6 linked regions of the Homo sapiens genome follow. The gene in region 3 interacts genetically with the main gene of each other region. Each region holds a gene or a part of one and is shown on either strand. Other genes may lie near its edges. The genes, in order: TIMELESS, RPL32, RBBP8, MBTPS2, MED23 and UBA2.

Region 1 (4,972 bases), on a different chromosome or scaffold from region 3:
CTCAGGTGATCCGCCCGCCTCAGCCTCCCAAAGTGCTAGGACAACAGGTTTGAGCCACTGTGCCGGTCTGTTGGTCTCTTTTTACCCTAAAATTGTTAAGTTCTTCTTTCAAGAGCACAGCAGGGGAAGGGCTGGGGAACTTAGACATATCGCCAAGTCAGACTGAGATGAGAACTTCTAATCTTACATGTTTAATACCAAACACAAAGCAAACACATTCATCATCTAGAGTACTATATTCCAACCCTATCTCAAATGCAGGAATGGGCCTCTATCTGGTATCTAGAGGATGATCATAGGAAACAAAATGAGGACAGAGGCATCTGGTATCTTCTAAAAGTGGTACAAAACTCCCGCCTGTCATGTCATAAAGCTCCCCATCTGGTGCTGCGACCCACCTCCAAGAGAAAGCCAAAGGAACAGACCAATAAAAGGGGTCCGGGGTGCTTTCTCTATTTCACTCACTCCTCTTATTTGCTAAGGAGCTCCAATAACCAAAAGAAATGGTTCCTAGAAGAAGAGAACTAAATCTCCAGAGAGCTGCTGGGGCATACCGATAAAAACTGGGAGAAACAAAGACTGACAGCAGAGAAGTCCAATACTGCTGCTGAAGTTTCTCAGCCTAAATCCGTGAAAGAGCCTGGGATTCTACTGCTCTGTCCAGTAAGAGGAGCTTCTGGGTCCTGTATGACCCTTCCAACTCTGACTTGAATGCACCATCTAAAAACGTGTCTATCTCTACCCCTAGGCTTCTTAGCTCTTCAGTCATCCTCATCATCCTCAATCTGGTATCGTTTCTTCTTTTGGATTCCTGGAGCTCCCAACTCTGGTGCTGTGGGAACGATGGGGGTGAGAGAGAGAGAGAATATCTAAATATGTTAAGGGGTAAGGACGTGGTAGAGTTTGTCTTCAGGATTAGAGAAGAAAAAGAAGGTCCCATCAAATTCCCTACCTCTGTTCCTGCCCTCATCTTCTTCCTGTTCCTCGTCGCTGTCCAGCAATTGTCGTTTCTTGGGTGCTGCCTTCAGCGGCTCTTTACCAACAGCGTCTTCCTCTGCAATGACCATAAATGACACAAAATTAGGAACTCGGTCCTCATATTCTCAGAACACCTTTCCTGCCCTCTAGACCAACATGGCTGACACGTTAATACTCAGAAGATGGCTGTCGCACTATTACCCTCTGGGGATGCCAGGCCCGCTTTCTTCTTGTGGGCTAGCAAGAGGGCCCTCAGGGCTTGTGCTCGGTGCTCTTTACAGTGCTCCTCATCAGAGCCTTGCTCTCCAGGGACTTTAGGCTGCAGCTCTGGCTGCAGCTTCTGTTCCTCCTCTGGTTGACTCAAAGAAGCTGCTGCCCTCCGGAGCTGGGTAGGACTCAGCTTGGCTGGAATTCGCCAGAAGGTTTCCTACAGGGGCCAAAAAGTTGAAAAGGGAAAGGACCAGCTTTTTGTTTCCCAGAGTATGATATTCATTGAATATATATGACCCAATATTGGTGAAGATCCACAAGGGTTGTGAACTCTATTTATTATAATACTTACTATCTAATATATACCCAGTGCCTAGCACAGTGCCTGCTACATTAGGAGGTTCCCAGTTATAGGTTTTTTTGGTTGTTCTTTTTTTTTTTTTTTTTTTAAATGAGAAGGGGTCTGCCTCTGTCACTCAGGCTGAAGTGCAGTGGCACAATCATGGTCCACTGTAGTCTCGATCTCTTGGGATCAAGCTATCCTCCTGCCTCAGCCTCTCAAGTAGCCAGGACCACAGGGGTGCATGCCACCATGATGCCCAACTACTTAAAATTTTTTGTAGAGACAGGGTCTTGCTGTGTTGCCCAGGCCAGTCTCAAACGATCCTCCCACCTCAGCCTCCCAAAGTGCTGGGATTACAGGCATGAGCCACTACACCTGGCTATAGTTGTCAATTGAATAAATAAATAAATAAATAAATCCTGGGGATGTAAAGGTGAATCAGGTATGATCCTTGCTATCAAATAACTCACAATCCAATGGGAAAAAGAACAAATGTACTGTAGTATCACAGGATTTTTTTTTTTTTCTTTTTGAGGCAGAGTCTCACTCTGTTGCCCAGGCTAGAGTGCCGTGGCAAAGCAATAAAGGCTCACCCTCCTGGGTTCAAGCAATTCTCCTGCCTCAGCCTCCCAAGTAGGTGGGACTACAGGTGCCTACCACCACACCGGGCTAATTTTTGTATTTTTAGTAGAGACAGGGTTTTGCCATGTTGGCCAGGCTGGTCTTGAACTCCTGACCTCAGGTGATCCGCCTGCCTCAGCCTCCCAAAGTGCTGGGGTTACAGGCGTGAGCCACCATACCCAGCAGATTCCACAGGATTAAGGCTGCATCAGGGGCATGAACAAATCACAGCTGCAAAAGTGATTATTTTTACTTCAGGGGTTGAAAGAATGACAAGGACTGCTTCTCTGACAAGGTGACAATTGAGCAGACTCTTGAAGACTGGGTAGAGGTCCATCAGTAAGACAGATGGAGTGTGTGTGTGTGTGTGTGTGTGTGTGTCACCCTGTGTGCACGGTTGCAGCCTTCCAATAGAGGGACTGGCATGATTAACCATTTGGAGGCATGAAAAAGCCTACCAGGGTGACTATGATGTAAAGTCGGTGTGTGAGTGGTGTGGCTGTGAGGCTGCAAAGGTTGGCCAAGGATGGGGATGCCATTTGGAGTTTGTGGATTCTGTCCTGCAAGCAGTAAGGAACCATCAATGGCTCTGGACAGAGGACTTGACCCTCCATATCCACAAGTTCTGAGTCTGTGGATTCAAACCACTGTAGATCGACAATATTAAAAAAAAATAACAATACAACATTAAACAATAATACACAGCCTGGGCAACATGGCATAACCCCATCTCTACAAAAAATACAAAAAATTAGCTGGGAGTGGTAATATAGGCCTGTAGTCCCAGCTACTCAGGAGGCTGAGGTGGGAGGATCACCTGAGTCTGGGAGGTTGAGGCGACAGTGAGCTGAGACTGAGCCACTGCACTCCAGCCTGGGTGATGGAGTGAGACTCTGTCTCAAAAAAAAAAAAAAAAAAAAAAAATATATATATATATATATATGTGTGTGTGTGTGTGTGTGTGTATATATATATATATAAATAAAATGTATATATATATATTTACAATACAGTATAACAATTATTTACCTAACATTTACATTGTATAGGTATTATATGTAATCTAGAAATGACGAAGTATACAGGTTGTACCTAGGTTATTTACAAATACTACAAAAAGGGACTTCAGCATCTATAGATTTTGGTATCTGTGGGCAGGGGGGTCCTGGAACCAATCCCCTCTCAGACACTAAGGGACAACTGTAATCAAGACTATATTTTAAAAAGATAAATCTGGAGGCAGTCTGGAAGATGGATCTAGGGGAAGGGGAGATTAGAGAGAGGAAAAGAAGACTAGCAGAATGGCTGCTGCAGGAATCTTGGTCAGAGATGACAAGACAATGAGAAGGACCAAGATGACGATAAGGATAAGGAGGACCACCATGACAGTGAGGAGGAGGAGGAGATGTATTTGGAAATAGGACTAACACGCCTTGGTTGACACTGTAACTGACATATTTACCTGCCCAGAGGCAGGGGGCCGAACCCCTAGCTTGCGCAACAGCTGCTGAAACTGTTCGTTTTCCATGGCTTCCTCATTTTCCTCTGTGAGTGGCACCAATGGAACGGCCTGGGAGCAGCCTAAGACAGGGTCAATAGTCATATGGTGAAGATATAAGGGAAGAACTGGTTCTCCATCCCATGACCAGGTAGGTCTCCAATAGCCTCCAGGGCTCTTCTCCTAAAAGTGTCACCTGTCCACTCACCATCCTCTTCCCGATCATCAGCTGCTCGGATCAGGCAGTTCTGGAGCCATAGGAGCGGGATAGAAAAGCCTAAGGAAATGAGGGAAACTTACATTTGACCCTACTCCCAAGCCCTCCACCTGAGACATCTCTCCCAGCCAAAGTCCTCACCTTCCTGATGCAGGCTTTGACCAAGGTTTTCATTTGAAAGGACTAAGCTACCCTGGACTTGTTCTGCTTCTGAGCCCCCTTCTTCTTCCTCTTCGCTGTCTTCCTCAGGCAGGTTTTCCTCTTCTTCCAGATCTTCCTGGCAAAAATCTTTCAGGGACTCCGCTCCATTTGGCTAAAATTCATTGGGGGTTGGGGGAATGAAAATGAAGGCAACACAAGGAACTTAGTGGAGTCTCCTCGTTCCTGACCACCGCACCCCCCCGCGCCTGCTCTCTCGGAAGGACCTGGTCAGAACAGCCTCAGGCAGGAAGAATCCAGGTGGACTGCTCCTAAGGACCACTTCAAGGGAAGTGAGCCCATGCCAGCAGAGCTAGGGTCAGATTGTTACCAAGATGGAGGATGCCAACTTTTTCTGCCGTTTCTTGTACAGCTCCCGCCGCTCAGCCACCAGCCCCAGAGCCAAGAGTTTATCCACTATTCGGGCCCGTGAGCGTTTGGCTGTGATATTCTTCATGATATGACCCAGGACATCTATAAAAAGCAAGCATGTGAATACCCAAGGGTAACAGGGAAAGAGATGAGTAAAATAAATCAGAGGTCTCTGGAAAGAGGGTACCTCAATTCATCCAAAAATGACACTTACAAATATAGTAAGTGAACAGAAGGGATGGGAGAATCTTTCCTTGGGAATAAAAGGCAGCCCCAAAATAAATGGATAGCTTGGCTTTCATCTCAAAGGTCCCCTGAGTTTCCAGCTTACTCACCATCTGAGTCCCGGAATTCCTCAAAAAGCCGCTGCAGCTCCAACTCCTGATCCCCCGTCCACAGTACAATATGGGTTCCTTTCCTGATTAGGAAGGTGTCAGTGGAAGAGGAAGCCCAGGAAGTGATCACGAGTCCCCATCCCAATAGCCTCCAGAGCATGTGCCTCTCTACCTTTGGAAGTCCTTGACACTGTCAGCCA
Region 2 (5,623 bases), on a different chromosome or scaffold from region 3:
TTTTATACACAAAGCTCACCAAGTGTCTAACTTACTCAAAACACCTAGAACTAGCTGGGTGTGGTGGAGTGTGCCTGTGGTCCTAGCTACCAGGAAGGCTGAGATAGGAAGACAGCTTGAGCCCACCTTGAGTTTGGGGCTGCGGTGTGCCATGATCACAGCTGTGAACAGCCACTGCACTGTAGCCAGGGCAACACAGAGCCTGTCTATCTCTAAAATCAAACCAGGCCAGGCATAGTAGCTCATGCCTGTAATCCCAGCATTTTGGGAGGCTAAGGCAGGCAGACCGCTTAAGGTCATGAGTTCAAAACCAGCCTGGCCAACATGGTGAAACCTCATCTGTACTAAAAATACAAAAATTAGCCAGGAATGGTGGTGCACGCCTGTAATCCCAGCTCTTGGGAGGGTGAGGCAGAAGAAACGCCTGAAACTGGGCGGTGGAGGTTGCAGTGAGCCGAAGTCATGCCACTGCACTCCAGCCCCGGCAAGAGAGCAAGACTTCATCTTAAAAAACAAAAACCAATAAAACCCACCTGGAACCAATGCCCTGCAAACCCTCCATGTGCTTTCACCTCTACACCTTTGTGTAAGCACTCTCTGCCTGCCAAGTTTCCTCCTGTTCTCCATCTAATGCAAACTTTCCAGAGCCCTCCTGCCCCTGAAGATACCCCTTACCACAGCACAGACTTAAGAGCCCCTTAAGGTCTGAGGTCCATGTTTGACCTTCTCCCGCTTGTAAGCCAAAAATAAAATTCAAAGGCCCCCAGCAACCATCTGAATGCACTCCCTCCTTGAATAGGGCACTCTTGGTTTCCACAACCTCTTACTGTAGCCAAGACATTCCTTTCTAGTGATAACCAATTCTCGACGAGAAACAGAAAATCTATCCAAAACCTCGAAGTGCCGCCTTTCTGGACCAAACCAATGTATGCCTTATGTGTATTTGATTGATGTCTCATGTCTCCCTAAAATATGTAAAACCAAGCTGCTCCCCGCCCACCTTGGACACATATTCTTAGGGTCTCCCAAGGGCTGTGTCACGGGCCATGGTCAACTCATATTTGGCTCAGAATAAATCTCTTCGAATATTTCAGAGTTCAACTCTTTTGCTTGACACCTTCATAAAGAAAGCAACATTTTGGAAACAACAGCCAAAGGATATTGTAGTAGTGGAAAGTGGCTATTATTGCAGTGTTCACAAAGCAGTCTTTTCCTGGTCTTGGGTCTCTACACTTAGAAGACCAAGTCACCTCCTTCAGCAAAGGAAACACCTTGAATTCCCCAACAAGCATTCTCTAAAATCCTGCAAGGAACAACTTCTGATTCCCTCAGAGAATGTACAACACCCCCCGCCAAAATGCATCCCAAGAGTTTGTAGAGTTCCTGCCAGAAGTGCTCACACAGATGCAAACTTCTGATCACTGAAAACTAGAGGTGGGACCCAACTCACTTGTTGCACATCAGCAGCACTTCCAGCTCCTTGACGTTGTGGACCAGGAACTTCCGGAAGCCACTGGGCAGCATGTGCTTTGTTTTTTTGTTGCTTCCATAACCAATGTTGGGCATCAAGATCTGGCCCTTGAATCTTCTACGAACCCTGTTGTCAATGCCTCTGGGTTTCCGCCAGTTACGCTGAAGGAAATAATACACAGGTGGGTTAGCGTCTGTGCAGAGTGCGAACTCTTCCTTTTGGGGAGGGAAAAAAAGGACCAAATGAAAAGGAAGTATGCCACACAGTAGTTGCCTTTGGTAACAGGACTTCACTATTTCCTTACTTTTTTGGTGGGAAAAACCAGGAGCTCGTGGCTTTAGCCACTAGGGATGAAGGCACCCCCACCATTGCCACTCCCAAGCAATGGAGGAGGCACCAATGGGATGCGAGGGGACTGTGTAGATACTGAGATGGCAAGCACAGCTGCAGACACTGCTCTCAGCACCTGAGTTTTCTTGTCTATAAAATAGGGATCCTGCTGTCACAAGGCAACCCAAAATACAGGACACAAATGCAAAGCCCTCTGAACACATCAAAACGGCCAAATGTCCCTTTTCATTAAAGTTTCGCTTCACACATCAAGAGACATAAGTACCAGCACTAGGGCACACTGGGGGAGACCTGTATTTCTACAGAAAGCTCTTCCACAAGCCAGTTCATCGGTCAAAGATAATCCTGACTAGGTGATGTCAGAAACTGTTGGAAACTCTTTTCTTCACCCCACACCCATTTCCATCCCAGGACCACATACCTTAATTTTGACATATCGGTCTGACTGGTGCCGGATGAACTTCTTGGTTCTCTTTTTGACGATCTTGGGCTTCACAAGGGGTCTGAGGGCGGCCATGATGCCTTTTGGGGAAGAAGCGGCCCCAGGTGAGGAAGAATCCTGGAAGGAGGCTTTCCTGCCCAGGGACTGAACACTGTCGCAGAGTGTCTTCCAATCGCCAGCTACGGAGCAAGCTGGGAATGGAATGGGTGCCTCTGCCAGGCTTGCTTTCCCTCCCTTTCCGAAGCTGGCAGAATACTAGGCACTCTCCAGATGCGATCCCAGGAGGTCAAGGGTCACCTCACCCACTCAGAGCCCAAAGAATGCCAACAGCTGAGCAAATCAAAACTGACCCCAAGACACTCTCAATTTGCAAGGGGCAGCAAATCCCACCCCACCAGTGTCCGAACCCCCAGATGGTCCTTCCGGTAGTACTGGCCTTGACCATCTACTTGAACCTGAGTCTTTTCCTCACCTGTAAAATGAAGATGACACTGCGCGCTGAATGCCTGCAGTGCCTGTCACAGGGTAAATGTTCAATAAAACCTTCTAATTCCCTAGGGAGCTGCTGCGCTACCACACCCTCAACACACACAAAACCACCATATACCTCTGAAGATGCCTCAAACCTGGAGATCTTCCAGTATCAACTCACACCTTCCTCAGTGTGGTCTTCCGAGCCATTGATTTCCTACAGCAGCACCCCTTCTGCTCTCTTCGCAGCCATCAACTGGCCCAGAGTGGGTACTCAATGAACCACGTATTCAAAACGACTCTGCCTTCTGGCCCATGATATCCTCGAAGGCAAGGTGGGGGCAGTTGCATCTTCATATTCCCAGAGATACTACCAGAATTTCTGCCTGCAGCTGGACCAGCCGACCTACAGCTCGTCTTTCCTTGGCGGTCCCGCAGCAGCAGCCCTCGGGCCAGAGACTGCAGCGGAAGAAGCCGGCCATGGCATGAACGAATACACGTGGGCCGACATTGGTGAGCGCTGGGATCCACAGATCCCAGCTGAAAGCTGTCAAGCTGGGCCACCCCTGGTCGTCCCACGGCCCCCAGGAGACCCCGAAGTCTGGCCTCAACTAGCACCCTCCACCGCCAAGGAACAAACAAGCAGCCCGCAGCTCTGAATACAGGCGGAGGGCAGGAGGCTCTGGGACGCAAAGCCCTATCAACTCGGCGGCTTCGTTCTGTTCCTGTACACGCTCCAGTAAGCTGACAATAACAATACCCACAGACACTACCGCGCTGAAGGGGAGGCCTCCGCACCACTGGGCGACGGGGCCAGATGAATCCCGCAGGAATGCGGATTGCCACGGATTAACACTTACCGAGAAGGAGATGGCTGCCACCTCCGTAGGCAGCGCCGAGGAAGAGAGAAGGGACGGTGGCGCGCAAGGGCTGATGGGTCGTAACCCCTGGGTCCTAGCAGGGAAAAAGGCAAGCACTTCCGGCTCCGGCTCTTTTAAATAAAATAAAGACACGTCAAAAAATAATGCCGCAAAAATTCTGAGTATACATGTTTTAATAGACAATAATAACTAGGAATAGGACTGAGAAATGTATTCTACCTATCCTTGGGACTACGTAGAAATTTGGAATTCTTTCTGAGCTAATAAGACCTGGTGGAGGGAGGAATTTACTTCCGCCAGAAGTCGAAGCCAATCCGCTTTTGGGCTATTTCCGCCCGCGTTTCTTCTACTCCGAAGTGCGCCTCTTAGTGGTCAGAAGAGAACAAGACAGAGACTTCCTAATAATTTCATCACCGAATTTAGACAGTAAATAGTAACGAAAACAGCTAACATGCGATGGAGTTCACTATGCCTACCACAATTCTATAACGTACCCCTATTATTGTCTCCATTTTGCATATGTGGAAGATGAAATTTGGAGACTTGACTCCAAACTCCACGCTTCTAACCACTGGGCGAAACTGCCTAGTTTTTCTTTGTTCATTTTTTAGAAATGGGGTCTCACTCTGTTGCCCAGGCTGGTCTTGAACTCCTGGGCTCAAACGATTCTCTCGCCTCAGCCTCCTGAGTAGCTGGGATTACGGGCACGAGCTACTGCCTAGATGTTTTTTGTTTTGTTTTGTTTTTTGGTTTTTGGTTTTTTTTAGACAGGGCCTCCCTCTGTCACCTAGGCTGGAATGCAAAGGTGCCATCTCACGGCTCACGGCAGCCCCTGCCTCCCAGACTGCCTAGTTTTTAAAGATGCTCTTGATTTGTTTTGCTTAGCTTTTGTATTTAAGATTATTGTGCAAATTGGCTGAGCACTATGGTTCACACCTATAATTCCAATACTTTGGGAGTCTGAGGTGGGAGATTTGCTTGAGCCCAGGAGTTCAAGACCGGCCTAGGCAACATAGTAAGACCCTGTCTCTACAAAAAATAAAATAATTAGCTGGGGCTGGTGGCGCATGCCTGTAGTCCCAGTTACTCGAGAGGCTGAGCTGGGATGATCACGTGAGCCCAGCAGTTCTAGACTGCAGTTAGCTGTGATAATGCCACTGCACTCCAGCCTGAGTGACAGAGCAAGACTCTGTCTCAACAACAACAAACCTATAAAGACAAATAACCCAATTGAAAAATGGGTAAAGAATCCAAATAGACATTTCTCTGTGGCCAATGAACACATGAAATGATCCACATCATTAGCCATCAGGGAAATACAAACTGGAACTGCAGTGAGATACCATTTCACACTCACTAGGACAGAGAAATGGGAATGTCCGTACAGTGCTAGTGCAAATATGAAATGGTGCAGTCACTTTGGAAAAGAATAGCATTTCCTCAAAATGTTAAACATAAAGTTACTGTAAGACCCAGCGACTGGGCGCGGTGGCTCATGCCTGTAATCCCAGCACTTTGGGAAGCTGAGGTGGGCAGATCACCTGTGGTCAGGAGTTCGAGTCCATCCTGGCCAACATGGTGAAACCCCATCTCTACTAAAGTTACAAAAAATTAGCTGGGTGTGGTGGCACATGCCTGTAGTTCCAGCTACTAGGGAGGCTGAGGCACGAGAATCACTTGAACTCAGGAGGTGGAGGTTGCAGTAAGTGGAGATCGCGCCATTGCACTCCAGCCTGGGCAACAAGAGCGAAACTTTGTCTCAAAATAATAATAATACATGAATTGGTGTCCCACAAAATGAAGATACTTTTTTTCTGATAAGAATATACACATAAGATTTATGTCAACTCAGTAATCATTCAGGAGGTTTTACTTCCTGAGATTTTTTTTAATGAAAACATTTTCTCAAGTTAGATTCCTAGGGTGTCTAAGTCAATGCCAAGAAAAGTTTGGAAAGACTTTGAGAGAAGGCCAGCCCAGCATCTTTCTTGTAAGCGGAGGTAGATT
Region 3 (4,972 bases):
GCAATGAGGCAAGACCTCATCTCTAAAAATTAGTAATTAAAAATTAAAAAATCTTAAAAAGAAATATAGACCGGGCGCAGTGGCTCACGCCTGTAATCCCAGCACTTTGGGAGGCTGAGGCGGGCGGATCACGAGGTCGGGAGATCGACACCATCCTGGCTAACACAGTGAAACCCCGTCTCTACTAAAAATACAAAAAATTAGCCGGGCGTGGTGGCGGGTGCTTGTAGTCCCAGCTAGTCAGGAGGCTGAGGCAGGAGAATGGCATGAATCCAGGAGGTGGAGCTTGCAGTGAGCCGAGATCGCGCCACTGCACTCCAGCCTGGGCTACAGAGCAAGACTCTGTCTCAAAAAAAAAAAAAAAAAAGAAATATAGAAGACACTAATAGAAAGGTATCCCGTGTTCATGGACTACAAAACAATATTGTTAAGATGTCAATACTATATAAAGCAATCTACAGATTCAATGCATTACCTATCAAAATCCCAAATCCCAAAATCCCAACATTTTTTGCAGAAATAGAGAAATCTGTCCTAAAGTCAAGGCAAGATGACAATCTCTTCAGCATAGCACATACCATTTTACATAATTTGGATCTATGTACATTTCTAGCATCATATCCTATCCACCTCCCCCAAAACTCCAATCTCCCATTCCATTTCCTCTTAGAACTAAACCTAACTATCCAGAGTTCCTTGAATAAAATCAAGCTCTTATCTGCAAACTTTTGCATGTGCTATTCTCTCTACTCAGAAAATTCCCTCCCCTTCCACCATCTTCCTTGCCTGGCTAATTAGACTTAATTATCAAGCCTGGTCTGACATAAACCATGCACAAACCCACTTCCCCATGCAACCACACACACCCTCAGTTCTTCCTTCATGTTTTCAGATAATAACATAGTATACTGCATTAAAATTCTAGACTAGAAATTCCCTTAAAGCTAGCACTATATAGGATTTATTCTTATTCACAAGGTCTGGCACATAGTAAGTGCCCAAAAAACATTTCTTGAACATTTCTTTGTGTCTCCATGAACACTGGGGCTTGAAAGAATACTTTTGGGGTTGTTCATATTTCAAAACTCATTAATTAATAAGGGTGTCACCAGAAGTTTTGCAAGAAACTAAACTTACCATGGGAAAGTTCTTTTTTTTTTTGAGACGGAGTTTCGCTCTTGTTGCCCAGGGTGGAGTGCAATAGCGTGATCTCAGCTCACTGCAACCTCCGCCTCCTGGGTTCAAACGATTCTCCTGGGTTCAAGCGATTCTCCTGCCTCAGCCTTCCTGAGTAGCGGGGATTACAGGTGCGCACCACCACACCCGGCTAATTTTGTATTTTTAGTAGAGACAGGGTTTCTCTATGTTGGTCAGGCTGGTCTCGAACTCCTGACCTCAGGTGATCCGCCCACCTTGGCCTCCCAAAGCACTGGGATTACAGGCGTGAGCCACCGTGCCCAGCCTACCATAAGAAAGTTCTAATACAGACTCACATACTACACTTTAGATTCAGGTTGATTATGTTTTAATAGTACTCCAGTGTAATGATACAGCTATAAAGCACTGCAATATTAAACTTATAATAGGTAATCAAGAAACAAATGTAATATGAAGCATTTCTCATACATAGGGACATAGGGAAAGTTACAGAATTAAAGTATATTAAAATTTAATATTAAAACCTTGAGCTTAGCTTCATATGGTGTATCTTTTAACACAAATAATATTTACTCATCTCAACCACAATTGCTTAATCCTCTAAAACTCCTTGCACGTCATAAAAACCTTTTAACTGTTATTTCACTGTACTGTAATTATCTGTTTACACGACTCTACTAAGACTGCAGGCTGTCTGAAGGTAAGTGGCCATTCACTTTTGTATTTCAGTGCTACGGGTTTGTCAAATGACTTTATGTAGTATTTTTATGTCTATATCCTGCAAAGAATTTTATAGAAGAAAATTAAATTTAGAGGTTAGGTAATTAGGCTAAGATCACAGAGCAAGTGGGTAAATGAAATCAGAATTCAAATGCAGGTCTTCAGTCAACAAATTGTATACGTTTTCCACTATCTCATACATATTACCACAAGTAAATAACAGCAAGTTGTATACAAACTATGTTCTGTGGTTAAAAAGCACCAATTTGACCATAAAAATGAATCACAAAAACTACAATTGTAAATGTCCTCTAAAAATGAGATCTGGCTGGGCGCAGCTCACGCCTGTAATCCTAGCTGTTTGGGAGGCCAAGGCGGGAGATCACCTGAACTCAGGAGTTTGAGACCAGCCTGGGCAACATAGCGAAACCCTGACTCCACAAAAAATACAAAAACTAGCTAGGTGTTCTAAGGTGAAGGATAAGTTTAAAAAAAACAAAAACAAAAACAAACTAGCTGGGCATGGTGCGTGCGCCTGTAGTCCCAACTACTTGGGAGGATGAGGTGGGACAATCACTTGGGCCCGAGAGTTTGACACTATAGTGAGCCATGTTTGCACCACTGCACTCCAGCATGGGTGACAAAGCAAGACCCTGTCTCAAAAAGAAAAAGAAAAAAAGATCAGCTGGGCACAGCAGCGGACACCTGTAATCCTAGCACTTTGGGAGGCTGAGGCCAGTGGACTGCTTGAGCCCAGAAGTTCAAGACCAGCCTGGGCAAAAAGGCAAAACTCTGTCTCTACAAAAAATACATAAAATTAGCTGGGCGTGGTGGTGCACACCTGTAGTCCCAGGTACCCAGGAGGCTAAGGTGGGAGGAACACCTGAGCCTGGGAGGTTAAAGCTGCAGTGAGCTGTGACCATACCACTGCACTCCAGCCTGGGCAACGGAGTGAGAACCTCTCTGAAAATTAATTAGTAAATAAATAAATACATGAATATATAAATAAATAAATAAATAATGAGATCTTTGGGCCAGGCGCAGTGGCTCACGTCTGTAATCCCACCACTTTGGGAGGCAGAGACAGAAGGATCACTTGAGGCCAGGAGTTCAAGACCAGCCTGGGCAACATAGTGAGACCCTGACTCTACAAAAAATAAAAAATTAGCCAGGCATGGCAGCGTGTGCCTATGGTCCCAACTACAGGAGGGAGGCTCACTTGAGAATGGGAGGTTGAAGCTGCAGTGAGCTGTGATCACACCACTACACCCCAGCCTGGTGACACAGTGAGACCCTGTCTCAAAAAAAATAAAAAAAAAAAAAAGATATCTTTGAATTTAAAGATGGCCATTAAATGTACAAAATTCAACAGTGGACTGAATTAAAAAAAAGTATATATACATCATGGAATACAATGAAGCCATAAAAAAGAACAAAATTATTTTCTTTGCAGCAACATGGATGCAGATGAAGCCATTACCCTGAGCAGACAACAGAAATACTGCATGTTCTCATTTATAAGTGGGAGCTACACATTTAGTACACATGGACACAAAGAGGGGAACAACAGGTACTGGGACCTACATGAGGGTGGAGGGTCAGGGGGGTGGGAAGAGGGTGGGGATTGAAAAACTACCTATGGGGTACCATGCTCACTACCTGGGTGATGAAATCATTTGCACACCAAACCCCAGCAACATGCAATCTATCCATGTACCAAATCTGCACATGTACCCCCGGAACCTAAAAGCTGAAATAGAAATAATAAACAGGACTGTCATACAAAGGTATACAAAGCCACTACAGTCTCAACAAAATACTGCTGTAAGTATTTAAGAAAAGATTTTACCTTGTACTTCTCTATCATGACATTCTTTTAGTTTTGTCCAAAGGTCCTTAAAGTCACTAGATGTATCTGCAGAGTTAGGGCTTCCACAGCTGCTTCCCGAGATGTTCATCTTGCTTAATATGCTCCACACTTCTACTTGCTTAATATTTTCTGACCTTTTCTGTTACATTATAGAGGTATCAAGTCGTCTTTGGACAGGTCAAATACCTGAAATGACAGATTGCAACATAAATGAACTTTGCATTTATCTTTATGTACTTTGAAATCAGGATGAAACACAAGCCCAGATATCCTCATTTACCATTTCCTTATTTACCTATAATCAATCATTTTTAGAATTTGGGAGGGGAAGGAAAGAATAAGGAAAGATGATAATGGTGAGAAAAGTTCTGATTTCAGTTATTTGGCTATATGAGGTAAATTTTCAGGCAAATTTTCTTATTTCTCTTAGAGGAAGAAATTATCTCAATTATATTAAACAGAAAGGATTCAGATATTGAGGGGTTTTTATCATTCATGGTCAGTATTAATTTACCACTATAGACTAATGTATTGTTTTGGCTGGGGGAGATGGCTCTTGCCTGTAATCCTAGCTCTTTGGGAGGCTGAGGTGGGCAGATCACTTGAGGCCAGGAGTTTGAGATCAGCCTGGCCACCATGGTGAAACCCCATCTTTACTAAAAATACAAAAATTTGCCAGGTGTGGTAGTGCGTGCCTGTGGCCCCAGCTACTCAGGAGGTTGAGGCAGGAGAATTGCCTGAAACTGGGAGGCGGAATTTGCAGTGAGCGGAGATCGTGCCACTGCATTCCAGCCTGAGCGACAGAGACCCTGTCTCAATTAAAAAAAAAAATTGGTTTTTTTAACTTTTGAATTGGTGAAACATACTGAGCCCAAAACTGAAAAATATTCTTAGTCTTGACTTAACAAGCATCCACATATATACACATATCTATATATATTTTATAAAAGAGACAGTTGACTGATGTATTAACACAGATGAGGATCTGTATAACTTTCCAAAAACAAGAGAAGTCAGTAAGATTTAAACACAGCAAAGATCTATGAATACAGAAACATCTTAGAGTCATAAGACAATTAGGGTAATGTTACTTCATGCCTCTCTTAGAATAAAGGTGAATCATTAAGTTTATTACATAGTCCTTGAAGAAACCAACAGGTTAAGAAGTTTGAATGGATTAGTAAATATTTTAATATGTGTTCTTAAAATGAAACCATTAATTAG
Region 4 (3,500 bases), on a different chromosome or scaffold from region 3:
ACCAATATGTTGAGCAAATAATTGAAGTTAGTCACATATATACAGAAATGGCTTTTATGAGAAACTAAATGAAAAACATTTTTATGGTTTACTCTGAACTATTTTCAGAGAAGAACATAGGAGACGATATAATTCAAGTAAATTACCTAATAACTTGTATTTGTCTTAGCAATTATAAATAATGGTGGAGATTTATCTAGGTGTATTCCTATCAAGCTAACGTTAAATAAGTATGTTTAAACATGCATAATGCTCAGATTGTCCTTAAGAGAACCAGTTTTTTCAGCAGGTTTTGATCTCCATATTAAAAAAAAAAAGAGAACCATTTTTTATCAGTTCATTTTCCAAAAATTAATATTTAAGTCTCATAAAACCAAACAGCCCCCCTAGAAAAAAGTATCACCTAAATATATTGTGCTGTTGCTTAATACTAAATATATAAGACAACCGTACAGTTCATTTTTTTTCTTGGCAGTTGGGACTTAAAAAAAAATTACCCAAGTTATTTTTACAAACATACTGTAAATTGTTAAGCTGTTATTAACGATGTGTCTATAGGTAAAATCCTAAAGGCTGCAAAGCACTGAAGGCGATTTTAAAAGAAAAAAAAAACCCAGCAGCCACCACTTTAAGCCACTATTGTGCACATCTGTGTAACAGTATATGCTCTGTCAAGATGAGGATTTATTGCCAATAAATAGACTCTTGTTCATAAACAACTGGAAAGTAATAAGAAGTGATTACATCTTCTCTGCCAAAACAGAGGTTTTTAACCTTTTCTCTGGTCCACACACCGAAAGGATAAAACACATTCCTATTAGCATGCTTGCTAATTATGGCCGTAATTATCAGTGGAGGTAGCAGGGGAGTTATGACGTGGCCCTCTCCCCATCATGATTTTATATGTGTTATAGGCTTCTAAATGCTTAGGTATAGTTACAATGATACATTTGGGAAGCCAAGACCAAGAACAGGGAGTGATACTCAAAGCTAGTCCCAGGTGTCTTCTTATCTTCCACTTGGGTTTCTAGATAGACTATGATATTTGTTAAACCCAGTGCTTTCAGTTTTCTTGCTCTAGCCAGCAGAGGACATAAGCAGAAGCAGGAAATTATTTCAGCTGATAAGTCAAATCAAGTTCTAAGGTGAGTGGGTTTTGAGTACAGTGGTTATCATTCTGACTCGATGAACAGAAAGATTGGCTTTTAGGACTTGGTAAAAAACTTTGAGGCATCATGAGGATAACCACACTGGAAAAGGCAAAGGATAGAAAGACCCTGATTACAGATATGCCCATGGTTAATGGAGCATATTCATCAACATATTAATCTTCTCTATAAAAAAAGAAGCTTCCTCAAAGTAACAAATGATGGCTATGCACTAGGCAATAGCCGCAGAAAGAAAAATAGTGAAGTATCAAATATAGCAGATTTTAGTAATAAATCCTCCTAAATGAAAAGCTTTTTTTTGCATGTAGTACAAAGAAAAAGGTAAATATCATTACCTAATAGCTGCTATCCCATGTCCAATTTCATGTACAACACCACTAATGAGAACTGCCGTGAAGAAATAGGTCAGTTGATTGACGGGTAAATTTATACCAGGAACCTGTTCATAGACACAATATGGCAGCAATTATCAGTGGGGGTGCAGGGGAGTCCCACTTGGGCACTAAGATACATGATGTTCATTCTGTATTAAACCTTCAAGCTGAATGTTCTGCAAACTAAAAGTAATATGACAATGGTTCACTTCTCCATTTCTATCATAATAAAAAGCAAAAACGCTATTTCATTTTTCGAACTAGCCAGTTTCTCTGGAACAAGCACACCACCAGTCTAAAGAGAATGAGAAACACCAGGTTAAACAGTTGAGATGTTAGCTTCCTGGAGTCTTCACCTTGGGAAAGAATGAGGGAGCCCAGCAAAGTGCCAAGGAATGCAGGATGACAGTGAAGCAGGCAGCAGCTGACCCAACCTCAAGGGCTGGATGCCTGATTTGGGAATCCTTGTTAAAATTCCTAGACCTTCCGCTGAATTGTTATTGCAAGGTTCCAAGTACTTGTGTTGATTAATATAGGAACTCCATATTATTAATCAGCGAGTTTCATTTTAATATCCTCAAGTTATAGGTGAGTTGGTAATGAAAGCTGGTCTAATAGGGATCCCGATCAGTGTGGGAGCACCATACCCTTCTATTCCATTAGTTGGTCTACTATGTTGGTCAGAAAAATAGTGTGGAAGAGATACACAAATACATTAAAATTGAAATTTAATGTCGAAATTAAGGCATTTGGAACCTACAGACATGTTACAAACATATGAAGCAGGAGTTGTCTTACAATCATGTGCTCCTAAAATGTGCAGGTATATATTATTGCATACACAAGGGAAGATAAGAGCTGCACAGCAAATTTTTTTAGATAGCAAAGATATATTCTCGTAAGATAAGTAATCACTCCCAAGTTATGTCATCTGTTAAAGAGAGACAATAAATTAGGCTAAGTGGGACACACCAGGCTCAGGAATACCATTTACATACTGAGAATCTATTTCTTACAGTCCAGGAGTTGGGACTAAAAGGTATCCTTTTGGAGGAAATTTCTGCTTTCTTTTATAATTATATTAATTATAAAAAATATGTTTAAAGCAAGAAAACTGGAAAATTCAAAGCAAAACAGAAGCCTAAAATTCTGCTCCCCAAACATACATACACATATAAAACCATTGTGAACCATTCTGATGTATGTCCTTCTAGTCTTTTCCTGTACACATAATTTTAAAAACTATACTTTTATTATAAATCTGGTTTTGAAATTTGCCCCTTCACTTAACAGTATCACAGACGTCTTCCCATGAGTATTTTCTATTTCAATATGATTTTTAATAGCTACACTGTGTTCTATGGAATAAACTGTTGGGCATTTAATTAAGTTTCTGCTCTTATAATGTGATAAAGATATTTGGACACACACACCTAAATATTTTGGAGGAAGAAATTCTTAGATGAGCATACTTGCTAAGGGATTGGGCTCTTGAGACATGTTATGGGTTTGAGGTCCTGTCTCTTTTTTTTTTTTTTTTTTTTTTTGAGACGGAGTCTCGCTCTGTCGCCCAGGCTGGAGTGCAATGGCGCGATCTCGGCTCACTGCAAGCTCCGCCTCCTGGGTTCACGCCGTTCTCCTGCTTCAGCCTCTCCGAGTAGCTGGGACTACAGGCGCCCGCCACCACGCCCGGCTAATTTTTTTTTTTTTTTTTTGTATTTTTAGTAGAGACGGGGTTTCACCGTGGTCTCAATCTCCTGACCTCGTGATCCGCCTTCCTCCGCCTCCCAAAGTGCTGGGATTACAAGCGTGAGCCACTGCGCCCGGCCGGTCCTGTCTCTATCTCTTAACTAGCTAAATGACCTTGGGAAAGTTGGCATTATTCCTCCAACATTCCTATTTTCTCATCATTAAAATGGAAATAACCACATTTGCACAAAAGGGTAATTTTGAGGAT
Region 5 (5,483 bases), on a different chromosome or scaffold from region 3:
CTAATACAGTAGCCACATGTGGTCATTTAAATTAAAGCTTAATAAAATTAAAAAATTCAGTTCCACATTTCAAATGCTTCCTAGATAAATGTAGCTGCTAACTAGTGTATTGAATAGCACAGGTAAAGAACATTTCCATCATTGCAGAAAGTCATACTGGACAGAGCCACTCTAAACTTACTATTAATTTTCAAAAAGAAAAACTTTTAGGATGTGATAAACATAAAGGCATTTTTTTCCCCTCTGCTGTATTCTAAACCCAAATAAAGTTTTTGTCTTCTATTAGTCTCTGATTAAAAACATATTTAAAAGCCTATCCAGGGAAATTATATTCCCATGTTTTTAAGCTAGAGAGGGAAAACTGAATTTGTAATAAATTAATTAGAATGTTTATGTCCTTGAGAAAGTGATTATATTGATTTTCATTTCCTCTATTGTTTGTATAATACTAGTGTCACAATTTTATCCTCATTCTAGGATCAAAAAGCAATAAATTCCTCAAGGCAGCAAGAATACATTGACGCTATGCTAAGATTAACACTTGAAATAATCTCTAGCATGTTTTCTGGGTAATTTTAAGAATGAGTCTGCAGGGGCCGGGCACAGTGGCTCACGCCTGTAATCCCAGCACTTTGGGAGGCTGAGGCGGGGGATCACGAGGTCAGGAGATTGAGACCATCCTGGCTAACACAGTGAAACCCCGTCTCTACTAATACTAAAAATACAAAAAATTAGCCAGGCGTGGTGGCAGGCGCCTGTAGTCCCAGCTACAAGGGAGGCTGAGGCAGGAGAATGGCGTGAACCCGGGAGGTGGAGCTTGTAGTGAGCCCAGAGTATGCCACTGCACTCCAGCCTGGGTGACAGTACGAGACTCCGTCTCAAAAAAAAAAAAAAAGAAAAGAGTAAGTCTGCAAAAATTACTTTTACCATTATATAAATTTTTAGCTGGACTTGCATGGCCAGTAATGATTTAGTGATGGCAATTACATGAGCTACAAAGAAAATAAAGTTCTAGGAGGAATGTATTTAGAAATATGAATTTGAAATACAGTTGGTTAAATTCACTAGTTCTTTTTAAAAGAATCTGTAACTCTTAATTCCTAGGCCAATGTCAGTCACCAACTGTAGTGTAGGAACCACAGAGTACCCCATTTCCAACTGACCCCAGCCAGCACACCACCTGGCACACAGCCGACACTCATTCCAATGGAGTCGGGAAACAATCACACGGTTTATTCATTCAGCAGACTTTACTCATTAGTTTTCAAGTCTTTCGCAATGCCAATTCCCCCAAAATTAACAATGTCTCTCAAAATCCAAGAAATAAAATGTGTACTGTATTTACAAATATAAAATTTAAAAATTTTAAGATTATAAAAATTGAAGAATTACATCATCTGTCAGGTGAGAGTGTCAACCTGCAAAAGCAATTAACTTATTTTTAAAAAAAGAAATTGGAGAATCAACCATTTAAGCATGATTTTAAGTTCAAGAATTTTCAGATGTTATTTTCTTACATGGCTTCCAACTAATTTTATACAGTAAGTTCAAGTCCATAGCAAAGGTAATAAAACTGCCAGTTGACCTTGATAGAAACTATGGAAATTTATAATAAAATTTCAAGTCATTTTAAAAAGAATATGAAGCCTTGTTTGCTCCTACAATGCAACAAAATCTAGATTCCTTTTCTTGATATAAATCTCTATTATTCTGAAAATCTACCAAGAGATTTATGTATAAAATATTTGTAATAACTGTTTTACATGTGTGGTGCCTTTAAAATAATATATCTGAAGACTAAATATGTCATTAATAATAAAAAATACAAACAAAAACAACGGCTAGAATAGGAAAGACTGAAAGTGCCAATGACAAGTCATTTGATCACAGATACCTCTATGTTCCTACATAGCTCTAATAAGTTGTTATGAATATGAACAACATGTATCTTACTTGATCTCTTAGAGACAAAAATATAGATAGGGAGATGGGAGTTATAAGGTGTCAACAGATTCATCATTTGAATCAAAATAAAACAATCTGAATATCATCACTGCTTCTACTATATCACTACAGTGTGATCGCATTCAGATTTAAAAGGTTTGAGTCCACTCTCAAAGACGGATATATTTCTACTTTCTCCACAGTACAGTCTGGCTTCACTGAGTTACTGGTAAAGACACGGGCACCTGATTAGACTGAGGTGCTGGAGACCCACTGTTCATGGCTTGTGGAGGCACTGCAGCTGGCTCCATCTTGCTAATGTGTGTGATGAATCGAAGACGAAGTTTTAAAGCTGGTTTTAAGTTACAGATAATCTTCTCTACCTAAGAAATAAAAACACATTAAAACGTACTTTAATCAGAGAATTTCAACTTCTCACATTTAAAGCAGGATTTACACATATCCGGAGACAATAAACTAAGGAGTGTCGTGGGGTAGATGAGAAGTTTCTTAACATGTTCTGTGTTTTAAGAAAAGCAGATACAATGATTTCTTTCTTGCATGAGAAACAATACGTTCTCCCTCACACACACCCCTTATATATTATATGTGCATGTCTGTACATGTACCATATGTATATTCATATATATGCATATACTTACAAAGGCGTATCCACTCATCTAGCTAGCCAGTCATCCCACTACCAAAAGCTAGCAGAGTTTACACTGGAAATTTTATACATCCAACAAGTTGATCATTCTTTTAAAATGCCATCTTTACAGAAGCATGAAGCATAATTATAAAGTTCTTTGAATAACTCATGTTTGCAACATTTATCTATAAAACTATTTTGGTTTTGATTTACACTTGGAATTAACTAAATAATATTAGATCTACTCTTTTGAAAAACACTAAGGAGACAAACACATCAAGTCGTTTCACAGCTTTCTTAGCTTTACTCAAATGCTCTTTGACCTTTTCCTTTCTGTACTCCCTTGTGTTAAAGTTTCTTAGGCCTAAATGTAAAGAATACTTTTTTTAAAAAAACAAACAAATAAACAATTTCTTTTACAGTTTCTCTGCATGTTCTGTGTTGTAACAAAAGCAGATACAATTTCTCTCTTTCTTACATGAGAGAGAACAGGTCAACTCTCTTTGACACTGCTGCTGAGACATAAAGGAGTCAACCTCCTTGGCATCTCAACCTAAAGTACTGGGAGGGGTAGGAGGATGGACTTAACTTTCCCTATCTGTCCTACCTCCACTCCTTTAAAATGGCCCAGATTCTGTTTCCTACACGTAGGAAACTCAGTTATGATTCAAGGTCTTTTTCTACTTTCAGACATCCCCATTAGGAAGTTCCTCTTCATATGCTAAGTCAGGGTGGCCTCCCTTTAACTTTACCAGAATTCATACACCCTCTAAAGTGACACAGAACGAATCTAATACCTATTCCAAATGAAAACCCTCCAAAATGCTGAGGTCATAAATAATTCCCTAGGACTTTTTTCTTCAGGATAAGCATTCCCATATTCTCTAAATGCTTTTCATGAGTTAGTCTCTAGTCAGGATTAGTCTAGAATCCTGACTTTAGTCTTCTAGTTATGCCGCGGTTTGTCTACTGTCACCATGAGTGTCAGGAGAAGCAGGACCTCCTTTACTCATAACACAACAACCTCTCTGCTCATATTTCAGCAGCCATATCCCACTGTTTCTCCCTAATGAGATTACTATTAATTAACCCTCTAGGTCTTTTTCAGATTTTCTGTTGCAAATATCAAGGGGGAAAAGTACAAGAAATTATAACATGTATTTCCTTTAATACTACATCTAGAATAATATGCCTCTGATGCCTAAAAAGGTCTCATACCCACCCTTTTTCCTTAAAAGAAAAAATTAGACAAAATAAAAATAATCACCCAAACCAAAAAAGTCTATTACTATATGTTCAAGTTTTCTAAATTAAACATCATTAAAAATAATTAAACAAATTCAACTTACTTGCTCTTTCACGCTGTCACCAGTAAACATATACTTCATGTGATAGAGGAAGTCACAGATGGGATCCATGTAATTTAAATGGGTGCTACACTGGTCAACATTCAGCAGCATGTCATAAAACGCCACACCAATCTATTTAACAAATAATGTAAAATTATTTAAGTGATCAAGTGATTCAGTAATTCAGCATGATGCAGCTGGGCTCCATTACAACACTAGCACCGGGGGATACTGTCTTTGCTGTAGAACTGTCATATACCATATACACCTCTATGCACATGAGATATGATATGGCTTGCATTTATAAAAGAATCTATAGTGCTACAAAATGCCCCTGACAAGGCTTAAATAAAATTTCTCTTCATAGTTAAGTAATTTCTCTTAAAATCAAGAGATAAACAATCCCCTTTCTAGACACCATCTCTCGATGTCTGGGATAACTCCACTCCTAGGGATCCTTTGGATTATACTTTCTTAGTTCCATTTGGTAGCTCTTGCTTTAAGGTTCTACTCCTGGGTCCTTTCCTTGTTTGCGACATTTTGTTAGAAGTGACTGACTTCATCCATTCTCATGATTTTAATTAGCTCCTCTGCACTGTAAGATCTCAAATGTACTTCTCCATCCTTAACCTCTTCTCAACCTTCATGATGGGCGTTTCCTCTGCATCTCCAATTCAATACATCCCACCCTAAATTCATTACTGGCAAACTAAGTCCTCTAAAATTGCTCTTGGATCCTGTTAAACTAGTTTCACTACTAATGGTTGTGACCTGCAGTTTCAATAACACTGGTAAAGAAACTTAAATAGATACTTCAGAATTTAATCATGTCACAGGAAACCCAGATTATATTTTACCTCTATCATACAACGAGTTCTCTCTTGCTGAAATCTTTGTAAAAATGGTCCAACAAGATGGTATACATAAAGCAACTGGAATTCGGTCTTCACTATAGGAAGAAGTACTTCAGTAAGAAACCTAAAATTTGAAGATAAAAATCTCCTGTGACTTGAAATTATTTAAATTGTTTGAATTTTGTTCATACAGTATATACAAAGTATTACAATAAAATATAATTTTTTAAAGTTCCTTTTAATTTGGTAACAATAATATTTCTAATTAATCTCACATCTCTCACTGGCTATTACTTTCACTTGATTATTTTTATTTATTTATTTTTTTGAGACGGAGTCTCACACTGTTGCCTGGGCTGGAGTGCAGTGGCGTGATCTTGGCTCACTGCAACCTCCGCCTCCTGGGTTCAAGTGATTCTCCTGCTGACTAGCTGGGATTACAGGTGCACACCACCACGCCTGGCTAATTCTTTTATTTTTAGTAGAGACGGGGTTTCACCATGTTGGCCAGGATGGTCTCAATCTCCTGACCTTGTGATCCACCCATCTCGGCCTCCCAAATTGCTGGGATTACAGGCATGAGTCACCGCGCCCAGCCGCAAGTTGTTCTAATGAATGAAGTATATACCTCATCTGTTAATGAGATTAGAACAAAATGAAATACAATTTTTTTTTTTTTTTCAG
Region 6 (4,158 bases), on a different chromosome or scaffold from region 3:
GAGGCTGGAAGACAGTTTGTCAACACCATATTTCAGGCTGGAGGTGGAAAGAAGCTGTTGAGGAAACTCCCTTTGCAAGCCCTACTCCCAGCTCCCAGCTGGTGAGACAATTTACATGGAAAAACCATGAATACAACACAAGATCTGAAGTGTCTCCACCCTCTAGGCACCTAGGGAAAGCTTGGATTTGCTTTGGTACACTGTCTAGTTGTACAGGATCCCTGCAACTAGTAGTCAGACCTGCCTTCCTAACAAACCTGCTGAAAAAGGTAGTAATAGTTAATGCAAAGATGAAAAACACTGGTCTGCCAAATTAGAAACAACTCCGCAGACCTAACTGGCACTTATCATCATGCACTATACATTCAAATAGGAAAGAACAAAAGAACATACACAAAATATCGGGAACACATTGTTAACTGTGTCTACAAAGCAGGGTGAGGACAGGGCACGCGGCTCAGGGCCTATAATCCCAGTACTTGGCAAGGCCAAGGTGGGAGGATCGCTTGAGGCCAGGAGTTGGAGACAAGCCTGGGCAACGTGAGACCGTCTCCACAAAAGAAGTTTTAAAAATTAGCTGGGCATGGTGGTGAGCTCCTGTAGTTCCAGGGACTTAGGAGGCTGGGGAGGGAGAATTGCTTGAAGCCAGGAGGTCAAGGCTGCAGTGACCTATGACGGCACCACTGCAAAAATAAAGGCAGGCAGGATGATGTGTAAGAATGGACAGAATTTCAAAATCAAATTTCTAGAGAGCTTTTCAGAATAAAAAGTTTGAAGAGTGAGACGGCATCCTAAGATATTTCATTTTATATTACATAGTTAAGTTTCAAATTATTTTCTGGAGGAAAATTAAACACCTTCTAAAAACCTAAAGGCAGATGAAGCTCACAGGTGAAAGTCACTCCACTCTGGGGCTCCAGAAGGCTGAGTCTTAGTCAACATGACTTTTTTTTTCTTTTCAGAGACAGGGTCTCATTCTGTCACCCAGTCTGAAGTACAGTGGTACAATCTTGGCTCACTGCACACCCCGCCTCCCAGGCTCAAGCGATCCTCCTCCATCAGCCTCCCGAATAGCTGGGGCTACAGGCAAGTGCCACCAGGCTCAGCTACTTTTTGTATTTTTTGTAGAGATGGGGTTTTGCCATGTTGCTCAGGCTGGTCTCAAACTCCTGGGCTCAAACGATCCTCCTGCCTCAGCCTCTCAAAGTGCAAGGCTTATGGGTGTGAGCCACCACACCCAGTCTTCTACATGGTTTTTCTGAAAGCTCTGATTACATGCTGAATTTACAAATGGTGGAAAACAAGGAGTAATGGTTAATAAGCTGAATGGTACAGTACAAATTACACAAGGAACAATACATGAATTAGAAATTTAAAATTTAGTTGAAATATAAAATAAATTATTGCCAGAAACACAAAGGGCACATGAATACAATAGGGGAAACAGCTTAATGGCTTTCTGTTCTCTGAAAACTCAAGGCCCATCTCTGAGTGATAAGAGTACCCTAACAGGCAAAGCCCTCTGAGGTCCGGGACCAGGAAGACAGTGCTACTCCACCTACTGGCGGTCTGGCACTATCTGTAGGCTGGAGTTGGGCTGGGGATGGTACATTCAAAATGGACTTTGGTAAACTAGGGGACAACCCAGACAAACACTGCAGAAAGGAGGAAGGACTCCCTTTCCAGCATCTCAAATTCAAGGCTCCAAGTTACTGGGCTTGGGCAAAGTCACACATTTTCTCAACAAAGGCCAACTGCTGACAATCCAAATTTTAAAAACACTGCCATTAGGCCAGGCGCAGTGGCTCACGCCTGTAATCCCAGCACTTTGGGAGGCTGAGGCAGGTGGATCACGAGGTCAGGAGTTCCAGACCAGCCTGGCCAACATAGTGAAACCCCATCTCTACTAAAAATACAAAAAATTAGCTGAGCGTGGTGGAGGGCGCCTGTAATCCCAGCTACAGGGGAGGCTGAGACAGGAGAATCGCTTGCACCTGGAAGGCGGAGGCTGCAGTGAGCCAGGATCGCGCCACTGCACTCCAGGCCAGATGACAGTGTGAGGCTTCATCTCAAAAACGAACAAAAAACCCACTGCCATTAAAAGCTTTATTTTATTTACTTATTTTTTAGAGACAGGGTCTTGCTATGTTACCCAGGCTGGCCTTGAACTTCTGGGCTCCAGCCATCCTCCTGCCTCAGCCTCCTGAGTAGCTGGAACACAGATGTGCACCACCACCACACGCAGGAAGAGCTTTATTTTAGAAAGTACTCTTCCTACATGTGAAGTCTCCAAGAATAAAGAAAAGAAAGTACTCGTCTTTGGCAAACAGTGGAGATCTTCTGAACCTTTTTTGAGATGGAGTTTCACTCATCGCCCTGGCTGGAGTAGCAATAGCACAATCTTGGCTCACTGCAACCTCTGCCTCCCGGGTTCAAGCAATTCTGCTGCCTTAGCCTCCTGAGTAGCTGGAATTACAGGTGCCTGCCACCAGGCCCGGCTAATTTTTTTTTTTTTTTTTAGTAGAGATGGGGTTTCACCATGTTGACCAGGTTGGTCTTGAACTACTGACCTCAGGTGATCCACCTGCCTCAGCCTTCCAAAGTGCTGGGATTACAGGCATGAGCCACCGTGCCCGACCGAGTTCTTTTTTTAATGAAAAGAATTTGACATTCCTGCAGTAGATATAAGGCAGCAGAAACAGGAACTGTGCAGGCATGTGTAACAAGAATGCAGATGCCATTTATTTGGTCCATAAGTATAGTCGTTATTTGAGTTTTACAAAACATCGAATATAAATAACCTGAAACTGTAACAATACACAAAAATTGGCTTCTTACACAGACATACCAGGCGGTACAAACTGAAAACTTGAGTAAATTAACATTGTTTTACATTAATATACATAGTGCCATCTAACATTTAAAAACAAGTTTCAATGCATAGCACTCGATACTTCTTTGAATCTGTTTCAATCAGTTAAGAGTATGAAAATGGTTAGATCTAGGCTAAAAATAATTCTTCTTCTAGCCAAAAATAAAGGCATAATATTTATAACCAGGTATCAACTTTACTAAACCACAATATTTTGAAACTATTAATGATACCTACGGGTATTTACATTAAAAAGGCAACATGCATTGTGTTGTTTTATCTCATGACTGGTTATGCACACACTTTGTTCAAAGGGTTTTTAAAACTATATTCCTACTTTCAATACAGCATACTGCAATGTGTCTAACAGTTCTAGCAAAATGAATGCTTTCAAAGGGAGCAGAATCATTTTCAAGTCACTGCTGTCAATTTTTTCCCTTTGGAACAAAGGACATAACAATCTGGTTCTGCCCAGATAAACTAAATAGTAAGAGGGTTCTGTTTAGAGGCATTTCTGTTCAATCTAATGCTATGACATCATCAAGCTCTTCCTTCTGTTCTATACGTGACCTCTTTGCACTGAGATTCTCTTTCTCATCTAATTTCCTCTTGCGGCTTCTCTCTTCTTCACTGACGTCGGCATTATTTGAAGAATCTTCTTCATCTGAATCAACTATGAGAACGTCATCTTGCTCTTGAGCTTATTTCAGAAAAAAGGGAAAAAGAAAATGGGTAAAAGCGTGGGAGTTACCTGTGCTCACCTGTATTTTCTATAATTGAAAGCTGACTCTTCTAATACACACCAGACTTAAGAATGGCTGCATTTTCACTTTACACATTACGTATTTCCATACTGTTTTAAATGTTTTATATAAGAACCTATTTATTTTCTAATCAAAACAAAAAATTGTGACAAGCATTATGTAACTCAAAGTACTCATTACACATCCTTGATTCTACCTCCACATTCTCCAATAGAAAAGCAGAGGGTACATATTCTAATAATGGTAGTAGTGGTAACAATAGCAACAACAATACAGCACTTACAATGTGCCAGGAACTGTTCTGAGCACTGTGCATATGACAACTCATTTAATCATCACAACCCTATAAAGAAGATCACATGAGTATCTGCTTTCCAGGAAAGGAAACTCAGTGAATGACTTCCCAAGCTTACATAGTAGCAGAGGATGAAGCCAGGAACCATCCCCAATGCAGAACTGATACTAAAGGTGGTTTTATCTCCTCGTCCAACAAAATCAAAGGCAGAATACCTATCTTACTCA

The links.
Region 1: changes in RBBP8 (region 3) and TIMELESS together harm fitness more than expected from each alone (negative genetic interaction), as found in Homo sapiens cells (one large-scale study listed by BioGRID).
Region 2: changes in RBBP8 (region 3) and RPL32 together harm fitness more than expected from each alone (negative genetic interaction), as found in Homo sapiens cells (one large-scale study listed by BioGRID).
Region 4: changes in RBBP8 (region 3) and MBTPS2 together harm fitness less than expected from each alone (positive genetic interaction), as found in Homo sapiens cells (one large-scale study listed by BioGRID).
Region 5: changes in RBBP8 (region 3) and MED23 together harm fitness more than expected from each alone (negative genetic interaction), as found in Homo sapiens cells (one large-scale study listed by BioGRID).
Region 6: changes in RBBP8 (region 3) and UBA2 together harm fitness more than expected from each alone (negative genetic interaction), as found in Homo sapiens cells (one large-scale study listed by BioGRID).

Annotation. Positions count from the first base shown.
Region 1 is NC_000012.12:56,416,955-56,421,926, forward strand, and holds part of TIMELESS (protein timeless homolog), read right to left. Parts: coding exon 4,945-4,972; intron 4,856-4,944; coding exon 4,773-4,855; intron 4,540-4,772; coding exon 4,397-4,539; intron 4,181-4,396; coding exon 4,009-4,180; intron 3,928-4,008; coding exon 3,859-3,927; intron 3,734-3,858; coding exon 3,615-3,733; intron 1,406-3,614; coding exon 1,180-1,405; intron 1,055-1,179; coding exon 953-1,054; intron 833-952; coding exon 762-832; 3' UTR 1-761. UniProt on the Homo sapiens protein: Plays an important role in the control of DNA replication, maintenance of replication fork stability, maintenance of genome stability throughout normal DNA replication, DNA repair and in the regulation of the circadian clock.
Region 2 is NC_000003.12:12,837,899-12,843,521, forward strand, and holds the start of RPL32 (large ribosomal subunit protein eL32), read right to left. Parts: upstream 3,668-5,623; 5' UTR 3,596-3,667; intron 2,553-3,595; exon of another isoform or gene 2,345-2,552; 5' UTR 2,340-2,344; coding exon 2,244-2,339; intron 1,633-2,243; coding exon 1,451-1,632; intron 1-1,450. UniProt on the Homo sapiens protein: Component of the large ribosomal subunit. The ribosome is a large ribonucleoprotein complex responsible for the synthesis of proteins in the cell.
Region 3 is NC_000018.10:22,935,716-22,940,687, reverse strand, and holds part of RBBP8 (DNA endonuclease RBBP8), read right to left. Parts: intron 3,935-4,972; 5' UTR 3,837-3,934; coding exon 3,728-3,836; intron 1-3,727. UniProt on the Homo sapiens protein: Endonuclease that cooperates with the MRE11-RAD50-NBN (MRN) complex in DNA-end resection, the first step of double-strand break (DSB) repair through the homologous recombination (HR) pathway.
Region 4 is NC_000023.11:21,849,617-21,853,116, reverse strand, and holds part of MBTPS2 (membrane-bound transcription factor site-2 protease), read right to left. Parts: intron 1,609-3,500; coding exon 1,505-1,608; intron 1-1,504. UniProt on the Homo sapiens protein: Zinc metalloprotease that mediates intramembrane proteolysis of proteins such as ATF6, ATF6B, SREBF1/SREBP1 and SREBF2/SREBP2.
Region 5 is NC_000006.12:131,585,520-131,591,002, forward strand, and holds the end of MED23 (mediator of RNA polymerase II transcription subunit 23), read right to left. Parts: intron 4,924-5,483; coding exon 4,803-4,923; intron 4,078-4,802; coding exon 3,946-4,077; intron 2,328-3,945; coding exon 2,160-2,327; 3' UTR 1,419-2,159; coding exon of another isoform or gene 1,401-1,418; 3' UTR 1,213-1,400; downstream 1-1,212. UniProt on the Homo sapiens protein: Required for transcriptional activation subsequent to the assembly of the pre-initiation complex. Component of the Mediator complex, a coactivator involved in the regulated transcription of nearly all RNA polymerase II-dependent genes.
Region 6 is NC_000019.10:34,468,454-34,472,611, reverse strand, and holds the end of UBA2 (SUMO-activating enzyme subunit 2), read right to left. Parts: intron 3,573-4,158; coding exon 3,391-3,572; 3' UTR 1,361-3,390; downstream 1-1,360. UniProt on the Homo sapiens protein: The heterodimer acts as an E1 ligase for SUMO1, SUMO2, SUMO3, and probably SUMO4. It mediates ATP-dependent activation of SUMO proteins followed by formation of a thioester bond between a SUMO protein and a conserved active site cysteine residue on UBA2/SAE2.